Regions from separate parts of the Homo sapiens genome. Here region 1 is linked to region 2. A link means that fine-mapping ties the variant in region 2 to the expression of a gene that starts in the linked region. Tissue or cell type: esophagus muscle. Region 2 holds a variant in brackets; the other region holds the start of a gene. All regions are shown on one strand. Distances are between the middles of the regions.

Region 1 (2,753 bases), 190 kb before region 2:
GAGGCCAAAGGAGAAAGTCCACAGTGAGGAGGCCACTCGACTTCCCTGGACACTGAAGCGGGGGCCTTGGGGATAGAACTGTAGAGGGGGAGCTGGACCCGGGGGCACAGGGGACTTCAGGGACCAGGACCCACCTGTGCCATTGTCTGGGATCAGCACCACATTCACCAGGCCGGCCTCAAACTGGGCCTCCAGCTGGGCCAGGCTGTCGTAGTAGCGGCCTTGATAGAACACCTTCTGGATAGTCCAGCGGGCAGGGTCAAGGGCCTTGTGGTTCACTAGCAGCTCCAAGCCCACGTGGTGCAGGAAGAACCCAGCGCCCGAGATGTTGTAGTAGAGGCCAAACCAGGTGGCCCGGTCCCCTGATTGCAGACCACGGGGAGCCGTGGTCATTGTCACCAGGTTCCGTCCCCGGTGCTTGTAGAAGCAACAGTGGTGGAGAAGCCCAGAAGCCTGGGGCAGCTCTCTGTTGAAGATCATCTGGTCTATGTCCAGGTACTCTTGGAACAGCACGGGGCGTCGGTGATAGGGCAGGGGGCCTCCATGACGCTCCACAGTCACGTCCCGCATGTAGGAGGGGTGAGGCAGTGGCCCCACCACCAGCTCACTCACGTTGGGCTGGGGTTGCCTGCCAAAGAAGACGATGGCCAGTGCCTCCCGGGCAGGTGGGGGGCTCCCCCTGTCCAAGTGAGCCAGGGCTGCAGCCTTGGGAGGCAGCTGCAACTCCACTGAGAAGACACAGTTGTCCGAGGGCCGGGCCTGGGCTGCATCCACCAGCCCTGGCCCCAGCCGCTGGGTCAGAAAGCGCATCACAGCCGTCAGCTCCTCTCGGCTCAGGTCTGCAAACAGCTGGCTCTGGCCAGGGTGTGTCCAAGGCTGGGCACTGGGAGATACAGAGGGGCAATGGGGAAGCTGGCTGGGTTCACCCCCATCTCCACCCCTGCCCACCAGCAGGACACAAACCAAGGCAAAGATGGTGATGACGGCCAGAATGAGGAGCACGAGGATTGTCTTCTGGTTCATTTTCCCACGAAGAGGGACAGCTGATTCAACCAAAGGAGAGCAATGTATTCTCACGCCAGCAAGACGGGGGCTCTGTTGGCTCCTGGACGGGGTGGGGGGCTCCCGGACTCTGGCTGAGGTTCCCGGTAGTCAGATGCCTGGGACTAAGGGTGGGAAGGACACAGGAAGGCTAGGGCAAGGGGGCGGGGTGGCCGGGGTTGGAGGCGGGTCTGAACAGCTGTGATTTCCACAGACCTTACATGGTTTTGTCTTCCAGCCTCCAAATCACTCTACTTTCTGGGTCAGGGTTGGAGTTGGGGAGAGTTGGGGCTAGGGGGAAGGGGAAGGAAAATTTCAAGATAATGCAGCACTGGGAAGGAGCAGGATCTGTGCAGAGCAGCCTCTCCTGACCTCAGCCCAGCTTCTTCCCCAGTCCCCCACTTAGTCAGGGCCAGATATTTTCCTGTAACTTCAAACTATCGTTTTCCTTCCAAAGACCCCCACCCCCTGCCCCTTTAGCTTTCCAAATGACATTCCTTGGCCAGGTCTATCCCCCTTGCCCTCTGGCCCCCAGCGCTAATTTCCCTGGCCAGACTCCTTAGTATTCTCCAGAGGACTCTAGATACTTAACAGGTCAAACAATAAATTCAAGTAAAATTCCTCTAATACTTTTTATTATAAATTACATACAACATCTGTTTTACAAAATTCTATCTACTCTTCCTTTTGAATGCACATGCATAAAGAGATGTCTGATGTAATGTGACCACCTATTTCTGAGTAGTAGGATTTGTGATATTTTTCTTTGAATATTTAAAAATCATTTTTATAATTTAACACTTTAGAGATGAACAGGAAGTAAGAATTAACCAAAGGGACTGATGGGGGTTTCGTGTGAGAGGAACATTGAGGGGGTGGGAATCTGGGGAGCAGGTGTGATAAAAACACGGAGAATAGAAAGTAGAAACAGGGAAAAGTACATGTGCCTAACCACGCCGCCCGCCACACCCTCAGGACTAGAAGCCGTGGTAAGAGAAAGGGGGTAAGTCCGGGACACAGGCTGCCAGGTCGGGGAGGCAGGCCACAGGATTGATGCTGCAGAGCCCAGCATCCTGGCCCTTCTCAAAGTAGACACTGCCAGGGGAGAAGATGGAGGGGTCCTCATCAAAGAAGTTATAGGGTCGGAGCAAGAAGCCAACTCTGTTCCCCAGAGTCACTGTGTTTGGGATGTCCTCGGCATGGGGAATGTGCAGGAAGCTGGCTGTGACCCAAGCCACCAGATCCTGCAAGAAGAAGGAGGAGCTGGAGGACTATGGAAGCGTGACCCAAAGAACCACCCTTCAGTCACAATCCCAGCCTCCAGTCTCAGCCTGGCTTCCACTCTCCCCAGCCTCATGCCCATACAACACGTGGAGCAATCCATGTAAGCAGCTGTGCGGGGAGAGGGGGGAGCCAGTGTCCCAGAGCTAATCTCACCCCAGGAGGGATGACCTGTGTTGGTCATCAGAAAACTCCATGGCCTCTGAATCTGCGAACTGGAAATCAGCCATTCCCTCTAACCTTTGGCCAGAGGCTGGGCAGCCAAGATGCCATGCCCACAGGTGTCCCTTTCCTATGTCCCTAGGGCAACCAACCTCTCCTAAGAGGGTTTCATTGTTGATGAAGTCAGCAAAGGTAACTGTGGGTGTCCAGATGTCATTCTGGTGATAGATGCTACTGCTCTGTGACTCCTCCTCCTTTCTCTGGGTCAC
Region 2 (2,774 bases):
GAACAGGCACCGTCTTTCCCTTCATTAGGCCTATAGTCTCGTGGAGGGAGGCACACTAAATATAAAACAGAAAATTATAGTTAACTCCCTAAAATACACATATAGGAATCTGATCTTGACTGAGTAGTCAGGAAGGGTTTTGCTAAGAAAGTTATCCTTGAGCTAAGAATACAAGCATGAGTGGGCATTAAGTAGGCAAAGGTGGGATACGTGGTGGTGTGGGGAAGGTATATTCACTTTGTTGAGAGTTTTGCTGCCTAAAAGGATTCTAAGAAACTTAGAAGTCAGGACCTTATTTCCTAATTTGGCCCACAGGTATGGCTTTGTTGGTCTTCTGTCTGTGTGTATAGGGGCTGAGGAAAGGTGGGGTGAATGAGACTCACTGGCCTGAGGAGACAGACCAAAGTCCTCTACCCTTTTTTTTTTTTTTTTAAACACAAGGTCTTGTTCCGTTGCCCAAGCTGGAGTGCAGTGGTGTGATCATGGCTCACTGCAGCCTCGACTTCCTGAGCTCAAGCAATCCCCCCACCTCAGCCTCCCATGTAGCTAGTACTACAGGCACATGCCACCATGCCCGGCTAATTTTTTTTTATGTTATTTTTTGAGGCAGAGTCTCGCTCTGTCACCCAGGCTGGAGTGCAATGGTGTGATCTTGACTCACCGCAACCTTTGCCTCCCGGGTTCAAGTGATTCTCCTGCCTCAGCCTCCAAGTAGCTGGGACTACAGGCACATGCTACCAGGACTGGCTAATTTTTTTTTTTTTTTGAGACAGAGTCTCGCTCTGTCACCCAGGCTGGAGTGCAATGCTGCAATCTCAGCTCCTTGCAACCTCCACCTCCCAGGTTCAAGCAACTCTCCTGCCTCAGCCTCCCGAGTAGCTGGGACTACAGGCATGCGCCACCACGCCTGGCTAATTTTGTTTTTTTAGTAGAGATGGGGTTTCTTCATGTTGGTCAGGCTGGTCTCGAACTCCCAACCATAGGTGATCCGCCCGTCTCAGCCTCCCAAAGTGCTGGGATTACAGGTGTGAACCACCGCACCCAGCTCTAATTTTTGTATTTTCTGTGGAGATAGGGTTTCACATGTTGCCCAGGCTAGTATTGAACTCCTGAGCTCAAGCAATCCATCTGCCTAGGCCTCCCAAAGTGCTAGAACTACAGGCATGAGCCACCACACCCAGCCCCTCAACTCTTTCTTTGCTCACCACACAATCTGCGTTCTGCGTCAGCCTCTTGAGTGTCAGGAGTGAATTGTAGGGCTGAACCACTACGTCGCTCATCTCGTCCTGGTAGGGAAACACTGAATAAGTCTGCACTAGCTTCTTGGGGTACCTGAGAGAAAAGAGGATGGTGGCATAGTGAACCGGAAGGACCCCTCCATCACTGCCCATATGTGCCATTTTGTACAAAAGGGGTGAGGGCAGAACTGAGTCTTCAGAGCCAAAAAGGATAAGCCTGAAAGCTTCAAACTCTGTAGATCCCCTCCCCTCCACAGGTAAACCCCCACCCCCCAAAATAGCTTCC[A/C]ACATGGTCCTTGGGTGGGTCTGTCCCTATGACTCAAAAGGGGTAGTGGCAGACTTTCTAGCTCAAGAGAAAAAAGCAATGACATTACTCAGGGAACCAGGGTTAATGCCCTCTCCCCAAACACAGGCTTGCCTGTCATTCAGTCGCTCCAGGAGGTAGGAGCCCAGGCCAGAACCCGTACCCCCAGCGATGGAGTGACACAGCACGAAGCCCTGTGTGTATACAGGAATAAACAGACTCAGTTTCTCCTGCCACACTCTCACAACACAATTCTGATACCAGATGGGTGGGGTCTTACCACACACATCAGGTAAGCAGTCAATTCTACAGTAGATGCCAGCTGGGTATCCACTAATTCACTTCAATTCTGGACTACCTACAGACTGTCCCTGACTTAGGATGGTTTAATTTAAGATGTTTTGGCTTTATGATGGGTTTATCAGGACATAATCCCATCTTAAATCAAGAAGCATCTGAATTACAATGGTTCAATTTACAATTTTTCAACTTCATGATGGGCTTATTGGGTTATAACCTGATGCATTTCTACTTACGGTATTTTCAATTTTTTTTTTTTTTGAGACGGAGTCTTGCTCTGTCACCCAAGCTGTAGTGCAATGGCCCGATCTTGGCTCACTGCAACCTCTACCTCCTAGGTTCGAGCCATTCTCCTGCCTCAGCCTCTCAAGTAGCTGGGACTACGGGCATGTACCACCACGCCTGGCTAATTTTTTTATTTTTCGTAGATACGGGGTTTCACCATGTTGGCCAGGCTGGTCTTGAACTCCTGACCTCAAGTGATCTGCCCGCCTCGGCCTGCCAAAGTGTTGGGATTACAAGCATGAGCTACCGCACCTGTCCTCAAATTTGTTTTGGTTTTAGAGACAGGATCTCACTCAGTCCCCCAGACTGCAGTGCAGTGGTGTGATCATAGCTCACTGCAGCCTTGAATTCCTGGGCTCAAGGCATCTTCCTATCTCAGCCTCCAAGTAGCTTGGACTATAGGCATGTACCACCATGCCTGGATAATGTTTGTATATTTTGCAGAGATGGGGTTTCACCATGTTGCCCAGGCTGGTTTTGAACTCCTGGGCTCGGATGATCCACCTGCTTCGGCCTCCCAAAGTGCTGGGATTACAGGCATGAGCCACTGTGCCTAGTCAATATTTTCAATTTGTGATGTGTTTACATCCTGATAAACCCATTGTAAGTTGAGGAGTATCTGTACCTGAAGATAGCATCAGATCCCA

Direction of the effects. Positions count from the first base shown, and alleles are read on the strand shown. Sizes are in standard deviations (SD) of each study's normalised expression.
As copies of A replace C in region 2, the expression in esophagus muscle of the gene that starts at base 1,168 in region 1 goes up (moderate effect, 0.47 SD a copy in GTEx).

Evidence for each region. PIP is the estimated chance that this variant, and not a neighbour inherited with it, causes the effect. A credible set is the group of variants that fine-mapping cannot tell apart.
Region 1: it holds the start of AOC3, and the variant in region 2 is the best candidate, but not a certain one, in a credible set for the expression of AOC3 in esophagus muscle (GTEx, PIP 0.74).

The regions. Positions count from the first base shown.
Region 1 is chr17:42,849,614-42,852,366 of GRCh38, reverse strand. AOC3 (amine oxidase copper containing 3) reads right to left here and starts at 1,168. Exons shown (of 4, transcript NM_003734.4): 1 at 1-1,168. The coding sequence starts at 1,023. It overlaps AOC2 (amine oxidase copper containing 2), which reads right to left. Exons shown (of 4, transcript NM_009590.4): 3 at 2,637-2,753; 4 at 1,660-2,285. The coding sequence ends at 2,019.
Region 2 is chr17:42,661,935-42,664,708 of GRCh38, reverse strand. It overlaps TUBG2 (tubulin gamma 2), which reads right to left. Exons shown (of 11, transcript NM_016437.3): 5 at 1,657-1,736; 6 at 1,206-1,332. Among named protein-coding and RNA genes, the nearest start is that of TUBG2, 4.0 kb to the right of the region's middle. The variant A/C (reference allele first, on the strand shown) is at 1,525.